Linked DNA regions of Homo sapiens: region 1 is linked to region 2. The links come from fine-mapping of genetic effects on gene expression. A gene starts in region 2. The other region holds a variant in brackets. All regions are shown on one strand. Distances are between the middles of the regions.

The links. PIP is the estimated chance that this variant, and not a neighbour inherited with it, causes the effect.
Region 1: its variant is the best candidate, but not a certain one, in a credible set for the expression of GNB2 in whole blood (TOPMed, PIP 0.59).

The regions. Positions count from the first base shown.
Region 1 is chr7:100,786,128-100,790,631 of GRCh38, forward strand. ZAN (zonadhesin) reads left to right here. Exons shown (of 48, transcript NM_003386.3): 37 at 1-14; 38 at 1,762-2,009; 39 at 3,091-3,220. Among named protein-coding and RNA genes, the nearest start is that of EPHB4, 39 kb to the right of the region's middle. The variant T/C (reference allele first, on the strand shown) is at 2,961.
Region 2 is chr7:100,671,252-100,675,480 of GRCh38, forward strand. GNB2 (G protein subunit beta 2) reads left to right here and starts at 2,489. Exons shown (of 10, transcript NM_005273.4): 1 at 2,489-2,672. RefSeq lists silencers at 2,019-2,148, 2,159-2,238, 2,489-2,668 and enhancers at 3,099-3,308, 3,509-3,588.

The sequences.
Region 1 (4,504 bases), 120 kb after region 2:
TTGTGTCTCAGACAGTAAGGGGAGCGACCGGGGAGGTTGGAGAGGGGAGCACCTGTGGCCAGGGCGGAGGTGGAGGAAGAGGCAGGGTGGGAAGGGGCTTAGCCTGAACCCCAGCACAGTCAGGGGTTGGGGCGGGCGACTGGATCAGGAGGCCTGGCCTCCAGTTTAGCTCTTGCTAACTCTGTGGCCATGTGCCAGGTCCTGATCCCCTCTGGGACCCTCCACCTGCAGGGCAAAAAGAGGGGACTGGTCAAGGAGATCCTCCAAAGTTTTTCTTTTCTTGTTTGTTTGTTTTTTGAGATAGGGTCTTGCTCTGTTGCCCAGGCTGGAGTGCACTGGCACCATCATATAGCTAGCTGCAACCTCAAATGCCTGCAATCATGTGATCCTCACATCTCAGCCTCCCAAGTAGCTGGGACTACAGGCATGGACCACCACACCCAGCCAATTTTGCTATTTTTTTTCTAGAGATGGGGTCTTGCTATGTTGCCCAAGATGGGCTTGAACTCATGGGCTCATGTGTTCCTCCTGCCTCAGCCTCCTAAAGTGTTGGGATTACAGGCATGAGCCACTGTGCCCGCCCCCTCTAAGGTTTTTAATCAGGCCAGGAGATAGAGAAAATTGAAGATCAAGGATCCAGGGAGGCTGGGCATGGTGGTTCATGCCTGTAATCCCAGTACTTGGGAGGCAGAGGTGGAAGAATCACTTCAGCCCAGGAATTTAACACCAACCTGGCCAACATAGGAAGACCCTGTCCCTACAAAAAATTTTAAAATTTTAAAAAATTAGTTAGGTGTAGTGGCTTGTGCCTGTAGTCCCAGCTACTCAGGAGACTGACGCAGGAGAATTGCTTGAGCTCAGGAGTTTGAGGCTGCAGTGAGCTATGATTGTACCACTGCACTCCAGCCTGGGACACAGAGTGAGATCTTGTCTCAAAAAAATAAAAAAATAAAAATAATAATAAAGGGCCTCTAATTGAATGTCAGTAGGTATTGAAAAAAAAAAGTCTAGGTACCGGGCTTGGTGGCTTATGCCTGTAATCTCAGCACTTTGGACTTTGGGAGGCCAAGGTGGGAGGATTTCTTGAGGCCAGGAGTTCAAGACCAGCCTGGGCAATGTAGTGTGGCCATTTCTAAAAAAAAAAGAAAAAAATTAGCTAGGGGTGGTGGTGCGCACCTAAAGTCCCAGCTACTCAGGAGGATCACTCGAGACCAGGAGGTGGAGGCTGCAGTGAGCTATGATCGTACCACTTGTACTCCAGTCTGGGTGACAGAATAAGACCCTGTCTCAAAAAAAGAAAAAGAAAATTAAAAAAAGAAAAGAAAGGATCCAGGGAGCCTGAGCCTAAGAGGGTGGCCACAGGGGATGCCACCGTGGGGGAGGGACTCTGGGGACTGTCACACCTGGGCAGGGTCCCTTCTCAGTCTTTTGTTTTGTTTTTTGTTTTTTTGAGATGGTGTCTTACTCTGTCTCCCAGGCTGGAGTGCAGTGGCGCGATCTCGGCGCTCACTACAACCTCTGCCTCCCGGGTTCAAGCAATTCTCTTGCCTCAGCCTACCAAGTAGCTGGGATTACAGGCACGCACCACCACACCTGGCTAATTTTTGTATTTTTAGTAGAGACAGGGTTTCACCATGTTGGCCAGGCTGGTCTCAAACTCCTGACCTCAGGTCATCCACCCGCCTTGGCCTCCCAAAGTCCTGGGATTACAGGCGTGAGCCACTGCGCCCGGCCCCTTCTCACTGTCTGACTTCTTGGCAGAGTCTGAACAATGCTCAGTCTATGGCGACCCCCGTTACCTCACATTTGACGGCTTCAGCTACCGCTTGCAAGGCCGCATGACCTATGTTCTGATCAAGACTGTGGACGTACTGCCTGAGGGGGTGGAGCCCCTCCTCGTGGAAGGACGCAACAAGATGGATCCGCCCAGGAGCTCCATCTTCTTGCAGGAAGTGATTACCACCGTCTACGGCTATAAAGTGCAGCTCCAAGCTGGTCTGGAGCTTGTGGTAAGAGCTGGGCCAGGGCCTGGTGGGTGTGGGGAGGCAGCTGGACCAGGTAGGCCACCTGGAGTAGAAGTCAGGGATCCCTGTTCCCTGGGATGTTTGTGGCAGGGGTGGGCTGGTTGTAAAATCAGAGTCAGCAGGACGCAGTGGTTCACGCCTGTAATCTCAGCTACTCAGGAGGCTAAGACGGGAGGATCACTTGAGCCCAGGAGTTCAAGACCAGCCTGGGCAACATAGCAAGACGCAACATCTCTGCAAAAAATTTAAAATGAGCTGGATATGGGGGCGCACACCTGTAGTTCCAGCTATTGGGCAGGCTTAGGCTGGAGGATCACTTGAGCCCAGGAGTTTGAGGCTGCAGTGAGCCAAGATCTTGCCACTGCACTTTAGCCTGGGTGACAGAGAGAAACTGTCTCAAAATCAAAAACAAATTCAGCAACAAGCTCACTTCATGTGGGGAGGCAGCAGAGGCTGGCAAGAAACAAGAGGAAGAGAGGAGGAGGACAGAGCGTGAGGTGTGTGAAGGTCAATCCTGGGCTGAAGAACCAATGGCATCCACTACACCAATGTATTTTTATTTTTTGAGGCAGAGTTTCACTCTGTCGCCCAGGCTGGAGTGCAGTGGCACCATCTAGGCTCACTGCAACCTCCACCTCCCAGGTTCAAGTGATTATCCTGCCTCAACCTCCCTAGTAGCTGGGACTACAGGTGTGCACCACCATGTCTGGCTAATTTTTGTATTTTTAGTAGAGACGTGGTTTCCCCATGTTGGCCAGGCTGGTCTGGAACTCCTGACCTCAAGTGATCCGCCCGACTCGGCCTCCCAAAGTGCTAGAATTACAGGTGTGAGCCACTGTGCCCGGCCTCACTGAGCCAATTTTTTGCAAGGAAGGACTTGGGCTGGGAAGGGGGCGGACCTCACAGAGGTTTCTGCCACGTGAATAGCAAAGCCCA[T/C]TGGGGTATCTTATTCCACTCTCTGCACGGAGACATATGGAGATGACTGGGAAAAGTGAAGCCCAGCCAGGAAATGGCAGCAGGTCAGGAGGATTCAGCCCTGTCTGTGGCTCCTGTCTTCCCTCTTTAGGTCAACAACCAGAAGATGGCCGTCCCCTACAGGCCAAATGAACACCTGCGGGTCACCCTGTGGGGCCAACGGCTCTACCTGGTCACCGACTTTGAGCTGGTCGTCAGCTTTGGTGGAAGGAAAAATGCAGGTAATGGAGAGAGGGGAAAGAAGAGCAAAAGGGCCATTTCTGGGAAGTGGGAGGGAAAATCCTATTTAAGACAGGCAAATCCTGGTGAGCAGACTCGGCCCGGTAGTGGGGCACCCAGCTTCAGAGGAGGACCAGGAGGAGGTGAGGTGAGACCAGGTGGAGAGCAGAGGGCAGAGTCTTGGCTGGGTGCTGTGGCACTGGCCAGAAATCCCAGCGCTCCGGGAAGCTGAGGTGGGAGGATCGCTTGAGGTCAGAAGCTCAAGACCAGCCTGGGGAACATAGTGAGACCCCCGTCTCTACAAAAAAAATTTTAAAGGCCGTGCACAGTGGCTCACGCCTGTAATCCCAGCACTTTGGGAGGCTGAGGCAGGTGGATCACCTAAGGTCAGGAGTTCAAGACCAGCCTGGCAAACATGGCGAAACCCCATCTCTACTAAAAATACAAAAATTAGCTGGGTGTGGTGGTGGGCGCCTGTAATCCCAGCTACTTGGGATGCTGAGGCAGGAGAATCGCTTGAACGTGGGAGGCGGAGGTTGCAGTGAGCTGAGATCGTGCCACTGCACTCCAGCCTGGGTGACAAGAGCAAAACTCCATCTCAAAAAAAATTTTTTTTTTTTAAATGAGACAGGTGTGATGGTGCATGCCTGTAATCCCAGCTTCTGGAACTGGAGAGGCTGAGACGGGAGGATCGCTTGAGGCCAGGCATTCGAGACCAGCCTGGGCAACATAGCAAGATCCCATCTCTATAAAAAATAAAAATAAAAAATTAGCTGGATGTGGTGGTGCACACCTGTAATCCCAGCTACTGGAAAGGCCGAGGAGAGAGGATCGCTTGAGCCCAGAAGTTGGAGGCTGCAGTGAGCCATGATTGAGCCACTGTACTCCAGACTGGGCAACAGAGCAAGACCCTGCTTTAAAAAAAAGTTAATTAAGGCTGGGCACGGTGGCTCACACCTGTAATCCCAGCACTTTGGGAGGCCGAGGCAGGCAGATCACGAGGTCAGGAGATCGAGACCATCCTGGCTAACACGGTGAGACCCTGTCTCTACTGAAAATACTAAAAATTAGCCAGGTGTGTTGGCGGGCACCTATAGTCCCAGCTACTCGTGAGGCTGAGGCAGGAGAATGGAGTGAACCTGGGAGGCGGAGCTTGCAGTGAGCGGAGATCACACCGCTGCACTCCAGCCTGGGCAACGGAGCGAGACTCCATCTCAAAAAAAAAAAAAAAAAGTTAATTAAAAAAAAGAGTGAGGGCTAGGCGCGGTGGCTCATGCCTGTAATCC
Region 2 (4,229 bases):
AACCCTTCCCCCCTCTAGTAATCCCCCGTGTCTATTGTTCCCATCTTTATGTTCATGAGTACCCAGTGTTTAGCTCCTACTTATAAGTGAGAACATGCAGTGTTTGGTTTTCTGTTCCTGCAGAAATTTATCCACTTAGGATAAAAGCCTCTAGCTGCATCCATGTTACTGCAAAGGACACGATTTCTTCTTCTTTTCTTTTCTTTTGTTTCTTCTTTCTTTCTTTCCCTTCCTTCCTTCTCTCTTTTCTTTCTCTTTCTCTCTCTCTCTCTTTTCTGCATCCATGTTGCTGCAAAGGACATGATTTCTTCTTTTTTCTCTCTTCCTTTCTCTTTCCTTTCTTTTTTTCTTTCCTTCCCTTCCTTCCCTCCTTTTCTTTCTTTTACTTTTTCTTCTTTTGTCTTTCTTTCTTCTTCTTGAGTCAAAGTCTTGCTCTGTTGCCCAGGCCGGAGTGCAGTGAGTGGTGTGATTTTGGCTCACTGCAACCTCCGCCTCCCGGGTTCAAGCAATTCTCCTGCCTCAGCCTCCTGAGTAGCTGGGATTACAGGTGTGTGCCACCACGCCCAGCTAATGTTTGTATTTTTAGCAGAGACGGGGTTTCACCATATTGGCCAGGCTTGTCTCAAACTCCTGACCTCAAGTGATCCACCCGCCTCGGCCTCTCACAGTGCTAGGATTACAGGCGTGAGCCCCATCTCGTTCTTTCTTATGGCTGCGTGTTTTGATACTTTCAAATTACAAGGACTCAGTGAAGGCTATTCGTTGCCTTGAACTTCCCAAAGCATTTCCACAATCGATGGGGTTCTCAGTAAGAATCCGGGACTTGGAGGGCAGATGCTGTCAACATCCCCATTTAACAGATGTGGAAACTGAGGCCTAGACCTACGTTCTTGTCCCTTTACAGGCAAGGTCCCTGGAGGAAGGGGTTCATCTAGAGGCTCATACAGATAAACTGGAATGTACAGTAAAGTTTTGGCTGCCTGGGTTCATATCTAAACTCTGCAGCCTCAGGTCTCTTTCCACTATTAGAAAATGGGGAGAAGGCTGGGCGCGGTGGCTCACGCCTGTAATCCCAGCACTTTGGGAGGCCGAGACGGGCACATCACCTGAGGTCAGGAGTTTGAGACCAGCCTGGCCGACATGGTGAAACCTCGTCTCTACTAAAAATACAAAAAAAAATTAGCTGGGCATGGTGGCGGGCGCCTGTAATCCCACCTACTCCAGAGGCTGAGGCAGGAGAATCGCCTGAACCCAGGAGGCGGAGGTTGCAGTGAGCCGAGATCATGCCACTGCACTTCAGCCTGGGCGACAGAGTGAGACCCTGTCTCCAAAAAAAAAAAAAAGAAAAGAAAAGAAAATGGGGAGAATGTTAGCACTTAATTTCCCAGTATTGTGAGACTTAACATATGTCAGCCTGGGCAGCATAGCAAGACCCCACCTCTACCAAAAATTTAAAAATTAGCTGGGCATGGTGGCTGGGGCACGCCTGTGGTCCCAGGTACTAGGGAGGCTGAGGCAGGAAGATCACTTGAGCCGAGGAGATTGAGGTGGCAGTGACCTACAATCGCGTCACTGTACTCCAATTAAAAAATAAGTGTCGGGCCAGGCGCGGTGGCTCACGCCTGTAATCCCAGCACTTTGGGAGGCCGAGACAGGCAGATCACGAGGTCAGGAGATGGAGACCATCCTGGCTAACACCGTGAAACCCCGTCTCTACTAAAAATACAAAAAATTAGCCGGGTGTGGTGGCACACGCCTGTAGTCCCAGCTACTCAGGAGGCTGAGGCAGGAGAATCGCTTGCACCCGGGCGGCGGAGGTTGCAGTGAGTTGAGATAGCACTCCAGCCTGGGCGACAGAGAGAGACTCCGTCTCAAAAAAAAAAAGTGTGGCTCTCAATAAATGAGTTGTTATTTCAGTGGCAAGCCCTGAAAGGGGGTCTACAAAGGCCCAGTGGGCGAGGCTGAGGAAATGCCTGGACACGACCCTTCTCATGGCATTCCCGGGGCGCCCGCATCAGCCCCTACCCACTCCCGCTCGGGGACTTTCTCGGAATCGCGCTTCTTCTTCCAGCAGCCTCGAGGCCGGCCCCGTCCAGGTCTCTTTAGCTCCGCCCCCTGGTGAGGGGCGTGGCCTCCTCAGGGCCGGGGCGTGGCCCAACCGGGAACTGGGGCGTCGAACTCCCCTTCCCAGTCTGGAGCCACCCATTCCAGGCGGGGCGGGAGGCTGATCACGTGACCAGCGAGCGGTCTCACCCTCCTCATATGCCAGTACCACCTCCTCCAGTCCCAGAGGGGGGATGTCTTACTCCTTTCCGTGAAGCAAACCCTTTGAGTACGGTTTGCGTCCACAAAGCGTAGGGTGAGAACCTTGGGAGCGACTGGGCCCGTCTTTGCTCCCTCGGTGGGGTTTTGTCTCCTGGCTTCCCCCAAGTGCGAGGCAGTTGGTCTCGCCCAGCCGGGTCCTGGGCGCGGCGGCGGCAGCCGCGTCACTGGCGGGCGGGATCCCTCCGCTCTGGGGAGGCAGCGCTGGCGGCGGGGCTGGGGCCACTGAGGAAATCCATCCGCGCCGCCGCCGCCGCCGCCGCCGCCGCCGCCGCCGCCTCCGCCGCGGAGGAAGACAGCGCCGCCCGCGCACCGCCAGCGACCTCCGCCGCAGAGTCCCACCGCCACAGGTACCTTCGCTGGCAAAAGGAGTCCTCTCGCCCCCCAGCCCCAATTTCCCCCAGGGGAACCTCTCTTCCTTCGGTCTCCCGGGGCTGGCCTCCTGGGAGCGGACGTAACTCCCCAGACCTCCGCTCCCTTCCCCTCTTGCCCGGTCGCTCCCAAACCCGGAAGGGGAACTGGGGAACCCTCGCCCCCCACCGTGCGTGCGCTTCCCCGCACCATCAGCGAAGTTTTTGCCCGACCCCAGACCCCAGCCCAGCCCCGACTGCCTCTTGCTCCCTCGGAAGTTGGGGGGCTAAATTCCGGGCTTCCTCTAGGCCCCGCCCCGCCCCCTTTCCCCACCGCCACCCTCCCGCCTGCCCCCGGGGAGCACCCCTCGTGTCCTCCACTGTCGCACCCCTGCCGGCCCTCGCCTTGCACAACTCCAAAATCGGGGAGAAGCAGGCAAGGCCGCGCGCCACCCTTCCTTTCGTCTCCACCCTACCCACGATTTGGGTGCTGCCCGTGGTTTCTGGCCCCACTCGCCGAAACTGGAGCCCTCGGCGCCCTATTCCCTTTACAGATCCTCACCCCAAGCCCAGCTCCCAGGCGCCCGCCCCCCGCCCAGCTTTCTTTTAGGCAAAATGGAGGTCGTAGGGGCTGGAGGGCCAGGCCCACTGCGCTTCGCAGCGCCGCACCAGCCCGCGCCTTCCAGCTGCCAGATCCAGGGACCCTCCCGTCACTCTCCTGAGCCCCGCCAGACCTGCGGAGGCGGTTGCACCCTCATTTCTCTATGGAGCGCCGGCTGCTATATCCCTAGAGTCTGGGGGCTGCTGAGGGCCCTGGGGGGTGATGGGGACCGAGGGCTGAGAACGTCGCCCCCGCCCCCAGTTTCTTCCTCCAGCCGTGCTTCCTTCTGCCCTGGGCCTCCGGCGGTGCCGCCAGGCCTGGGCTGCTAGTAGGTGGAAGAGGCTTTGTGCGGGCCTGGGGGTTGGGTAGAGTAAGGAGTTCTGCCCGCACCCCCCATCCCCCGATTTTGAGGGTCACCCCTTGGCACTGGCGTAGAAAGCTGAACTTACAAGGAGGGGAAATGTCAGTGGGGAAGAGGAACGCCCTGCGCCTGGGGGAAGTGGGAGCTGGGTGGGGGACGCCTGGGCCGGCCAAGTGCAGTGTGTACGGCCGGATCGCACAGGTGTCCCGCGGGCGGGGAAGGACTCAGGCTCCCGGAGCGGAGCCAGCCGGGCCCCTGGGGCCCGGGCGCCGAGCCTGCGGGCTGGGCCCCCCGGGTGTCCAGGGCGCCGCGGCCAGGCCGCCTGGGGCCGCCCGCCCGCGCCTGGGAGAGAGCACCTCCGCGCCTCGGGGCCGGGGACCTCGTTGCGGAGCCGTAATTACTCGAGAGCGGCTCCCACGGGCTTTCTGCGGGCGCGGCGGGGCGGGCGGTCCCTGCGCTGGAGGGAGCAGCGGCTCGGGGCTGCCTTCCCCGCCGCTGTCACCCCCACCCGCGGCGGACGGCTAATGGGGCGCAGCCGGACCGGGGATTATCCGGGGTGAGCCGTCCAGAACCTATTAGCGCCCAATCGGCTTTT